Regions from separate parts of the Homo sapiens genome. Here region 1 is linked to region 2. The links come from fine-mapping of genetic effects on gene expression. Tissue or cell type: whole blood. Region 2 holds a variant in brackets; the other region holds the start of a gene. All regions are shown on one strand. Distances are from middle to middle.

The links. PIP is the estimated chance that this variant, and not a neighbour inherited with it, causes the effect.
Region 1: NUMBL starts here. The variant in region 2 is fine-mapped to the expression of NUMBL in whole blood (TOPMed, PIP above 0.99).

The regions. Positions count from the first base shown.
Region 1 is chr19:40,688,055-40,694,117 of GRCh38, reverse strand. NUMBL (NUMB like endocytic adaptor protein) reads left to right here and starts at 3,467. Exons shown (of 10, transcript NM_004756.5): 1 at 3,467-3,658. The coding sequence starts at 3,635. It overlaps COQ8B (coenzyme Q8B), which reads left to right. Exons shown (of 15, transcript NM_024876.4): 14 at 1,081-1,167; 15 at 1,745-2,588. The coding sequence ends at 2,083. RefSeq lists silencers at 2,775-3,014, 3,335-3,674 and enhancers at 2,361-3,298, 4,514-4,563, 4,237-5,176.
Region 2 is chr19:40,629,722-40,635,205 of GRCh38, reverse strand. It overlaps LTBP4 (latent transforming growth factor beta binding protein 4), which reads right to left. Exons shown (of 30, transcript NM_001042545.2): 30 at 5,388-5,484. Among named protein-coding and RNA genes, the nearest start is that of LTBP4, 31 kb to the right of the region's middle. RefSeq lists an enhancer at 3,716-4,306. The variant TG/G (reference allele first, on the strand shown) is at 2,856.

The sequences.
Region 1 (6,063 bases), 59 kb before region 2:
CCCTTGGGGCCCTCTCTGCCGGCCACTGAGGCACAAAGCTGAGACCCTTCTTCTCCCCACTGACACCCTCCCCTCCCACCCAGGCCTGCAGCCTTTGCCACTTTATAAAAGCCCTGGCTTCTGAGGACCACAGGCCTGACAGATGGCCAGACATGCTCGGGCAGGGGGAGCAGAGAGGGAATGGAATTAATCCCGAATCCCCCTCCTCACAAAAAAGGGCAACCCAGTAGTGAGTGGTGTGACCCGGTTCCACTCCCTACTCCGGGTCTGCTTCCCCTTCTGTGAAATAGGGACCCCCGTGCCCACCTCTTAATAATGGTAGATTATAGTATTTACGGTGCTTCCTGCATGAGACACAGCGCCAGGCAGGCCACAGGCATCACCTTCTTTATCCTCCCAACAGCCCCATGAGGAAGGCACTTTTGGCATCCCCACTTCACAGATGAGAAAGTGGAGGCCCAACAGGCCGGCAGGTGGCAGAGCTGGGACGGAACCCTAGCCAGCTGGCCCCAGCTGGGCATCTCTCCATGCCCACAACTCCTGCCCTGTGTGTGTGAGCTCATGGCTGGAGAGCTGCTCTGCTCCACACGCTCATTTGCTAAAGCAAGGTTCACCCAGGGCCTCCTCAGCACCAGACCCTGTGCCCCGTGCGACTAAACCCAACTGGGATCCTTGCTCTCACGGGGCTCAAAGTCCAGTGTGGGAGACAGAGAGATGGCCCCTGGCAACTTTGGATGCAGTTCTGGGTCACGCTCATACCCGTCCAGTTGAGTGTTTGGACTCACCAGCAGCCCTGACACTTGTTTCTTGCACTGTTTCACTGTGGCAGTTCCCGGGCAGGCCCCACATTGCCCTCTAGGTGGGCAGGATCCCTAACCACCTCCACTCCCAGGCTCTGGAAGAGTCTTTAAGGGAGTCACAGACAGGCAAAGTTGGGAGCAGGAAGCTTCCAGGTGAGGGAGGGCCCAGGCAGATGAGAATGGAGGTGGGTACATGGGAGGCCCAGGCTTCCAGCTCCTCTTCTCCAGAGCCCCCTTGAGCCCCGGCCTTTGTCCCTCTAACTCCCACCCGTCTCCCCAGGTGGTGAAGGCTGCAGCTGATGGAGACAGAGACTGTGTCCTGCAGAAGTCCAGGGACCTCAAATTCCTCACAGGCTTTGAAACCAAGGTGGGGAGACACTGGGGGAGAAAGGGGCTGGTGTCTGTTGGTGGGGTGCAGTGGGGGGCTGCTTATCTCCACTGAGGAACTCGAGTAGGTGATGGGGCATGTCGATACCCGGGGACTGGGGGACTCTAGGAGGGGCTTGTCTCCACTAGGGAGAATGGAGGCTGTGTGTCTATACCTGGGGAGTGGGTGACTCTAGGAGGGATGCTTATCCATGCTGGGGGCTTTGGGGAGGAGTGGGGGGAGGTGGCTGCCTGACTTCTCAGGAACCCTGGGAACATGGGCACCGTGGATCTGTTCAGGAGGGGCGAAGGCCGCTTCTCTGTTGTAGAGAGAGTAGAGGGCTACTTGTCTGTTGGAGGCTCTGCAGGGAAGTAAGGGGTGCTTACTCGGGGAATAGGCAGCTGCTTGTCTAGTCCAGGCTCTGGAAGGAGTGGAAGCTGCTCACTCTTGGGGGAGTCGGGGCTTGTGTTGATGGTGGAGACTGGAGGGAGTGGAGGCTACACGTTGTTTCTGGGTTATGCAGAGGGCTCTATGTCCACACTGGCTGCCTTTGCTCTCCCCCCACCCCCACTCCCAGGCATTCTCCGACGCCCACGTGGAGGCAGTGATGATCCTGGGGGAGCCTTTCGCCACCCAGGGCCCTTATGACTTTGGGTCGGGGGAAACGGCCCGCCGCATACAGGACCTCATCCCGGTGCTGCTGCGGCACCGGCTGTGTCCCCCACCCGAGGAGACCTATGCCCTGCACCGCAAGCTGGCAGGGGCTTTCCTGGCCTGTGCCCACCTCCGAGCCCACATCGCCTGCAGGGACCTCTTCCAGGACACCTACCACCGCTACTGGGCCAGTCGCCAGCCAGACGCAGCCACTGCCGGCAGCCTCCCCACCAAAGGGGACTCCTGGGTGGATCCCTCATGACAGCCTCCATGGGGGATTCAGTCCCCAGAGCAGGCCGTACCCTGCTGTAGTGCCTCTTATCCCTTCCCCGTCTGCCCTGGGTCAGAGGAGCCCCCTTGGGCTTCCCAGTCTTGCCTGGCTCTCCTCCTTGGCCCAGGAGCTCAGGATCCCTGGGGCTGGGGAACTCCCAACTTCGTGCCCTAGATCCTGCACCTCCCCACTCGAAAGTGGGTATCCGAAAACTAAGCCAGGGAAGCGGTTAACTTATCTTTGCCAACATTTGAGGGAGCCTTGGGCCGCTGCATGTCGTTATGCAGATCAGACTCATCAGGGGGAGCCCTCACCTCTGCCTCAAGCCTCCCGTGGAAGGCGAGATGGTCCTGGAGGCAGTCCTCACCTCTGCCTCCCTCGCTCCTCCAACAGCTGCCTTCTCCCGGGTTCCAGCCTCTCAGTGTGTTGGAGAGGTAGGGGTGCGGGGTGGGGGGGAGCTGAATCTTCAATCGGAATAAAAGCAGCCCTCCCCTTCCCCCAGCTCTTTTCTCTGCGCTAGGGTTGGGGGGAGAGGGGGAGGAGCTCGCCAGCGGCCTCCAGGTGCAGATGGCCAGCCCCCCTGCACCCCCTTGTCTGAAAGCCTCAGCCCTGCCTGTGCCATCTGTTGCCGGGAACCTCCTTCTCGCCTTCCCCACCCCCCCCCACGTGCTGACCACCTGCTCTAAGGGCTGTGGCAGCTGAGGCCTCCCACACACACAGTGCCTCTTGGCTGCGGGCTCCCTCCCCTCACTCCTGGCAACCTCGCCTTTACTAATGGGCTCTAATGTCCCTGCCAGCTGCTTTGCCAAACCCACAGGATTGGCGTAGGGGGCGGCGGGGGCGCCGTAGCGGCCAGAACCGCGCCCTGGTCCCACCCCGGCGCCCCCGTTCCCAAAGCCGAACCGATCGCGCATCAGGACGCCTTGGTCTGTTCACACCCCCTCCCCTTCCTTGCAAAAAGTGCCTCGTCACCGCTCCTGCCCGCCCCCGCCGGGCTGGGGAACCATGGGGTTAGCGGGAAGATTTGGGGGTGTGGGGCGGCAAGGCGCCTCTAGAAGCAACTCTTTCGGACGCGGAGCTGGAGGGGATCTGAGGTCAGGTGTCACGGAGGGAAAGGGAGCCCAGGCCAGGACGGACCGGGGGAAAGGACTCGGCGATGTTCATAGGCATGCTCAGCTCGGGACTGGCCAATGGGCGTGGCGGGGCGGTGGCCGCGCCGGGGAAGGCGGGATGGTGTCTGCGTGTGGGCGGGGTCTTCAGGCCAAGGGGCGGGGCGGGGCGGGACCTTTCTGCATATACGGCAGGCGGCGGGCCAATGGGCGGGGTCGGGGCGGGGAGCCGAGGCCGAGGGACGCTCCCCCGCCCCCGGAACGGAATCCTCCCGGGAGCCGAGGAGGCTCGCGCGCGTGCATCCCGCACCATCCCCCGGCCCCGGGCCCTGGCCGGCGTCAGACCGAGCTGCCGCCGCCACCACCGCAGCAGCAGCAGTCGGGGAGCCAGGCCCAGCCAGGGCCGCGGGAGGCGGGGGCGCCCGGGCCCTGGATGTCCCGCAGCGCGGCGGCCAGCGTGAGAAGGGCGGGAGAGGGGGGCTCGGGTCGGGGGCGGCGCCGCTGCTGATGTGGCGGAGGGTGGGAGGCGGCCGCGGCGCCCGGATGGAGAGAGGGTGCCAAGGCTGGAGAGGGTGGTCCCGGGTGGGGGTCCAGGAACAGGCCCAACAAGCCAAAGCCCAGGAGACCGGGGTCTTGGGCACAGACCCCTGGGCCATCTCTTGCCAAGGCCCTGGAAATAGGGATCCTGGACACAGACCCCCCACAAAACCAAGGACAGGGGTACAGAGATTCTAGGTACAACTCCTAGAACTAGATGGGGATGGAGATGGGGTCGGGGACACAGCCCCCGTATCAAACCAAGGCCTCCAGGACGCGATTCCAGACACAATCCCTACCTCTCCCTGCCTAAGGGGGTCTCAGCACAACAACTGCCTAGGTACGGTCTCGAGGATGGGGTCACTGGGTACAGCGTTCCCACCACGCCAAGGCCTAGGGGGACTCCAAGCACAGCCTGCCCCCAGGTCTCAGAGGCACCCTGGGCACAGCATCCCCCCAATCCTTGGGCGGAGTCCCAGGCACAGCCACTTCTCAAAACAAGGTCCCTGTGCCTGGGACTCCACCCCACCCCAGCCTGAATAAAATAAGGACAATTTCAGGCAACCCCCAATCCCTCCACCCCCTGGCTTGGTCATGGGTCCCAGGGCACAGGATCCCTAGGCCACCCCCTTTGTCCCCAGGGCTGCCCAGCTGTCCAAGAGTGGCCCCACCCGCAGACAATGCACCGCTTCCCCCTCCTGGACCTGGCCCTCAGGCTCCAGGATACAGGCTGGGCTGGGGGCGGCTCCCCAGGGACCGGGTGCAGCCCTGTCTGTCTGCAGTGTCTGCGGTGACGGTGACGGCGGCTTTGTGTGTGGTACCTGGGGGGAAGGGGGGAAGCAAGCGATGGGGAGGTGGCTAGGAGTGTGCCCTGTGTTTGTGTGACTGTGGCTGTGTATGTGTGTGTGTGTGTGCACGCGTACGCTGCAGCTGGTGACTGAGGAATCCTGTGTCGTGTGTGTGTGCTTGTGGTGGTGTCTATGATTGTGTCTGTGACCCTAGTATCTGTGTGACTGTGTATGTGTGTGTGACAGCTGCTCACTGTGCAGAATCCTGTACTTTTTAGTCTGTCTGTGTTTGGAGGTGTGCATGGTTGTGACTGTGGTTGTCTGTGATTGTGTCTTTTGTGACCCTGTGTTTGTATGCCTCGGTAACTATAACTGGGTATGTGACAGTATGTGTTGAGTCTGGGGGTGGGCATGCGTGTGACTGACAGGACGTGGGTGGAGTTGTGACTGTGTGTGAGTGGAGTTGTCTATGGCTCCATGTGCATGTGTGACCCTCCCAGTGACTGACAATGTTTATAGTTGTGTCTCTACCTGATTTTATATACGTGAGTGACACACACCTGTCTGTGCAACTCTGCCTGTGTGACTGCCATTGTGTCTGAAGTCACATTGTATCTGTGTGACTGGGGTTGTGTGACAGTATTGTGTATGACAGTGGTTGCGTATGCAGAACCATGTCTGAGTGTGTGACTGAGGTTGTATTAATATAAATGACTGTATCTAGCAGTGTGTGTGATAACGAGTGATTGTGTGTATTTCTAGCCTTGCATGTGTGATTTGGGTTATGTATTTGACTTGGTGTCTGAAACCCTGGCTATTTAGAGGGATTATTTGTGTGTGACTAAAGCTGTGGATGTGTCTCCGTGCTGGTGCCAGGAAATTATGTTTGTAGGGGTGTGTATATGATTATGGCTTCCATATTATTGTGTTTGACCTGCATGTCTGACCCTGGGTGACTATAGATGTCTGTGTCTATGTCATCATCTGTGAGAGTGTGGGGTCTGTAGCTGTGTGCCTGTTTTTGTCTCTGTGTGTATGTGCTGGACTACCTGTGTTAGAATGTGTGATTTGGTGATGAGATTGGCCCCTGACTGTGCACATGGCTCCGTCAGGACCTGTGTCTTCTGTGTAAACCCAGCTATAAATGCCACATCCTGGTCACTGCATTTATGTGCATACACTGGACTGTGTACTTGTGACATGGGAAACTAAAACTGTGTGCTTATGTCTCTATGTGTGAGATATGTGTGTAGGTGGGGCTTGTGACTTTGTGCACCTGTCCACACGGGGCTGTGATTCTATATGGCCACATACTTGTCTGTGTGACTTGTGTGCCTGCATGAAGAAAGGCTATATGTTTCGCTGCATTGGAGTGACATGGTACAGCTGTGTATGGACACTGGGTGACGGGATTATGACCATGATAGGTGGCTGGGTCACATGGACATTGATGCTGTGGCCATGCCTATAGGACCACCATGGCTGTGTCTTGAGGGAGGCCATCCTTGGGGACAGTTGTTTGTGGGTGGTTGCATGC
Region 2 (5,484 bases):
CCTCCCAAAGCCCTGCGGTTACAGGCATGAATCACTGCCTGGATGATCATAGCTTTTTTTTTTTTTTTTTTTTTGAGACAGAGTCTCACTCTGTTGCCCAGGCTGGAGTGCAGTGGTTCGATCTCAGTTCACTGTAACCTCCGCCTTCCAGGTTCAAGCTATTCTCATGCCTCAGCCTCCCGAGTAGCTGGGATTACAGGTGCCCACCACCACACCCGGTTGCTTTTTTGTACTGTTTTGTAGAGACGGGGTTTCACCATGTTGGCCAGGCTGGTCTCGAACTTCTGGCCTCAAGTGATCCACCTGCCTCGGCCTCCCAAAGTGCTAGGATTACAGGTGTGGGCCACCACGCCAAGCCTACTAGCTATTGATGATGATGATGATGATGATGATGATGATGATGATGCCAACGATGACAACGACGATGACCCCAGCCTGCAAAACCAAGGGCTGGCTAGCAAAAGCTCGGGGCTCGCTGAAGACTTTACGAGCATCGGCCACTAGGGGGCGCAGCCGGCTTGGGCTGCGCCGGCGCGCGGTGGCCATCGGGGGGCGCTGCGTTGCTTGTCTGGCGAGCGCGGTGACCGCCTGGACTACCTCCCTCTGAACATTCCAGAGGAGAACGCGTCGGTCCCGGCCAGTGCCAGAAGCCCCAACGCCAGGTCTGGGGGTTAGTGCAGGGGATGCAGGCAGGATAACAATTAGATCCATGGGGCACACCCTCCAGGCCCGGCGGCGGGCGAGATCTCAGAAGAAAGATCCCACTCCCAGGATGCTGAAATTCGATTGCAGTTTTCCAGCACTGTTGGCCAGCCCTGTCGCAATTCCTGGGACATTTATGCAGCAAGGTGGTTGTGGGGGCGGGGTGGGAATGGGATACCCACAGAAGATTCCGAGGAAGGATGAGAATACTTGGAAATTGCCTGCAACCTTTGTTTGTGTGAGTTTTTCTTCTGTGAATGAGCTTTCGACAGATTCTCAAAGGGATCTAGACGCCCAAACAGAGACTGTTCAGAGCTTTGTCTCTTTCTCCAGAAAGCCTTCCCTGATCATCTCTCAGACTGGATCAAGTGTCTCCTCTGGGCATGCATGCCCTCTGATCTTCCCCCACCGCAGCCTGACCCCTGCCTGTGCCTCCCCCATACAGCACAGGCTCTCATGTGTGGTGATGTGTCGGTGTCCCCCATGAAGGCAAGGGCCTGGGATTTCTCAGGCACCAAGATTGTCACCATTGTTGTCCAATACAGGCCTTAGATACCAAAGGAAAGACATCTAACAGACACTTGCTCTCTTACTTCTAGGCCTTCGGAAGTGCTGTCCCCTCCACCTGGAACATGGTTCTCCACCTCTTTCTCTTTTCTTTTTCTCTCTCTTTCTTTCTTTCTTTCTCTTTCTTTCTTTCTTTCTTTCTTTCTTTCTTTCTTTCTTTCTTTCTTTCTTTCTTTTCCTTCCTTCTTTCCTTCCTTCCTTCCTCTCTCTCTCTCTCTTTCTTTCTGACAGAGTCTCACTCTGTTGCCCAGGCTGGAGTGCAGCGGTGCAATCCTGGCTCACTGCAACCTCTGCCTCCCGGGTTCAAGAGATTCTCCTGCCTCAGCCTCCGGAGTAGCTGGGATTATAGGCACCTCCACCCCTTTCATCTTGCTCATTTCCCTACAGTAATCAACTCTCAGCTCCAACATCTCCTCCTCCAGGAGCCCTCCCTAACCACCCCCCAAGGCTGGGTTAAAGTTTGTGTTCCTCGAATTCACTTATTGCAAAGCAGGAAAATATTTGTTGAATGAATGACTGAGGAATTAGTGGTTGGGTCGGGTTCCCTGTATCAGCTGGAGGGTAACTTTCTGAAACGCTTTGTAGAGTCGGCGTTTTTAAAGAAGGGCTTTATTGACTTATGATTCACATACCACACAAGTCACCCATGTGTAGTGTATAATTCAATGATTTTTGGTACAGACAGTTTTGTGCAACTGTCACCCCTTTGTGGAGCCTTGAGCCACTCCTTGTCTGACACTCCTCCCCACCAAGGCCTTGTGTTAGGTGTTTCTCACTGTCCTGTTGAAGGGGATGGGGTCTGGCCTCCTCCTCCACCCTGGGAGGGAGAATTGGTAAAGAAAAAGACCTAGCCAGGCCAGGTGCCGTGGGTCATACATGTAATCCCAGCACTTTGGCAGGCCAAAGTGCAGGAGAATCACTTTAGCCCAGGAGTTTGAGATCAGCTTGTGCAACACAGTAAGGTCCCCTCTCTACAAAAAATAAAAATTAAAAAATTAGCTGAGCATGGTGGCACATGCCTGCAGTTCCAGCTAATTGAGAGGCTGAGGTGGGAGGATCACTTGAGCCTGGGAGGTTGAGGCTGCAGTGAGCCATGGTGGCACCACTGCACTCCAACCTGGGCAACAGAGCAAGACCCTATGTCAAAAAAAAAAAAGAAAGAAAGAAAGAAAGAAAAGAAAAGGAAGAAGGAAAGGAAAAGAGAAAAGAACAAGACCTTACTATCTGCCCAGCCACAGGGCTCAGCATATCCTGGGAGGCCCAGGGTTATGCCAACAATGACTGAGCCCTTGCTCTGTACCAGGTGACATTCTAAGCACATATATGACAATTCATTTAACCACCACCACCAATCCTGCAGGGTAGGCGCTCTTAGTATGATTCCCCGATGTAGCACAGGAGGCTGCTGGGCATGTGACCCCTCCTGACACTCAGCGGGTGGGCTGGAGATCAGGTCAGGAAGCAGCCTCCAATCCACAATTTATGCAATTTCAGCAGTGCCTAGAGGATTAAAACTGGAGCCTCATAGGCCAAATAGGCCCCATAGGGTACTATATTAGTCTTTTTCTGTTTGTTTTTGGTTTTTT[TG/G]AGACAGAGTCTTGCTCTGTCACCCAGGCTGGAGTGCAGTGGCCCAATCTCAGCTCACTGCAACCTCCGGCTCCTGGGTTCAAGCGATTCTCCTGCCTCAGCCTCCCGAGTAGGTAGTATTACAGGCATCCACCACCATGCTCTGCTAATTTTTGTATTTTTAGTAGAGATGGGGTTTCACCATGTTGGCCAGGCTGCTCTTGAACTCCAGACCTCAGGTGATCCACCTGTTTCAGCCTCCCAAAGTGCTGGGATTGCAGGCATGAGCCACCGTGCCCGGCCCTATTGGTCCATTCTTACTCTGCCATAAAGATACCACCCAAGACTGGGTAATTTATAAAGGAAAGAGGTTTACTTGATTCACAGTTCTGCATGGCTAGGGAGGCCTCAGAAACTTACAATCATGGCAGAAGGCAAAGGGGAAGCAGTCACCTTCTTCACAAGGCGGCAGGAGAGACAGCGAGCCAAGGGAGAAGAGCCCCTTATAAAACCATCAGATCTTGTGAGAACTCACTCACTATCACGATAACAGCATGGGGGAAACTGTCCCCATGATCCAATCACCTCCCACCAGGTCCTTCCCCGGATTACAATTCTGATTACAATTTGAGATGAGATTTGGGTGGGGACACAGCCAAACAATATCAGATAGTTATTAAAAATATACATTAAAAAAAACTTTTTTGGAGACAAGGTATGCCTTTGTCACCCAGGCTGGAATGCAGAGGCACGATCACAGCTCACTGCAGTCTCGACCTCCTGGGCTCAAGCAATCATCCCACCTCAGCCTCCCAAGTAGTTGGGACTACAGGCATGTACCATCGCACCCAGCTACTTTTTTGTAGAGATGGGGTCTCACTATGTTGCCAGGCTGGTCTCAAACTCCCGAGCTCAAGTGATCATCCTGCCTTGGCCTCCCGAAGTGCTGGGATTACAATCGTGAGCCACCCCGCCAGGCCAAAAAAAAGTATTAACAATGGGGAAAATTCCCCTTCCTAGTCTAACCAAGCCTTAGGCAGAAGGTAATGTGTGCCTCAATTTTCCCTGCTTCCTGCTAACATTCCGGTTCTGGTCTTTGCAGCATATGAGTTTGAAACCCTGGGGACACAAGAATTGACAGGTGGGTGAAGAATGACAGGTACAGTTTTGTGGGTTTTTGTTTTTGAGATGCAGTCTGGCTCTGTCGCCAGACTGGAGTGCAGTGGCGTCATCTCGGCTCACTGCAACCTCTGCCTCCTGGGTTTAAGTGATTCTCCTATCTCCGCCTCCTAAATAGCTGGGATTACAGTTGCATGCCACCATGGCGGGCTAATTTTTATATTTTTAGTTGAGACCAGGTTTCACCATGTTGGCCAGGATGGTCTTGATCTCTTGACCTCGTGATCCGCCTGCCTGGGCCTCCCAAAGCGCTGGGATTACATGTGTGAGCCATCGCGCCTGGCTGAGGTACATTTTTTTTTTTTTTCCCAGCTTGGCCCAGTGCCAAGTTGATCACCCACGATTCCCGACCCCTACTCCTGCCCTAAGTTTATGCTGATCTAGGCCGTTCTTGTTTTTTAGGGAGGAGGAGTCTGGACTAGGAACATGGCCAGTAAGCAGGCAGGGCACATGGAGGAGGTCCGTGCTGGGCACTCCACCATCACACACAGAGCTCATTCCCGCCTCCAGCTGTCAGGACTGCCGCTCCATACTCCATCCACAGCCAACTCCTAGCTGGAGCGTCAGGTCTGGGTTTGGCCCTCCAGGGACTCCTGCTCCCTGCTCTTGCCCCACTTGTTCCAGGACAGCTTAAGACTTCTAGGCCAAGCACGGTGGCTCACATCTATAATCTCAGCACTTTGGGAGGCCGAGGTGGGAGGATCACTTGAGCCCAGGAATTTGAGACCAGACTGGGCAACATAGGGAGACCTCATCTCTAAAAAATAAAAGCTGGGTGCGGTGGCTCACACCTGTAATCCCAGCACTTTGGGAGGCCAAGGTGGGTGGATCACCTGAAGCCAGGAGTTTGAGACCAGCCTGGCCAACATGGCGAAACTCCGTCTCTACTAAAAATACAAAAATTAGCCTGGGTTGTAGTGTGCACCTGTAATCCCGGCTCCTTGGGAGGCTAAGGCAGGAGAATCGCTTGAAACCGGGAGGCAGAGGTTGCAGTGGATGGAGATGGCGCCAGTGCACTCCAGCCTGGGTGACAGAGTGAGACTCCATCTCAAAAAAAAAAAAAAAAAAAAAAAAAAAATCCAGAGGCAAGATTGCTCTCGAGATGAAAGAACCAAACAAAGAGAAGGGAAAAGAGAAAGACGCATGCAGAAACAGAAATGAAAAGACAGGATGTAGAGGTTAGGCAGAGAAAACAAATCAGAAAGAGACAGAGATGAGATAGAACGACAGAGACAGAGAGAGAAGGAAGACAGAGACCAAGAGAGGCAGAGAGACAGACGAAACTAGGGGTCAGAAGGGAAGGGAATGTCATTTAGTGACTCAAAGCACAAACTGGGGTAGACTTGGAGAAATAGACAGGAGGAGGCAAAAGATAGAAAATAGGTGGTTTTTAATGGAAAATTTTATAAAAGGGAGAGGGCATGTAAAGGGGCCCCTGGGCCAGGCCCGGGACCACGACATCAGTGGGAG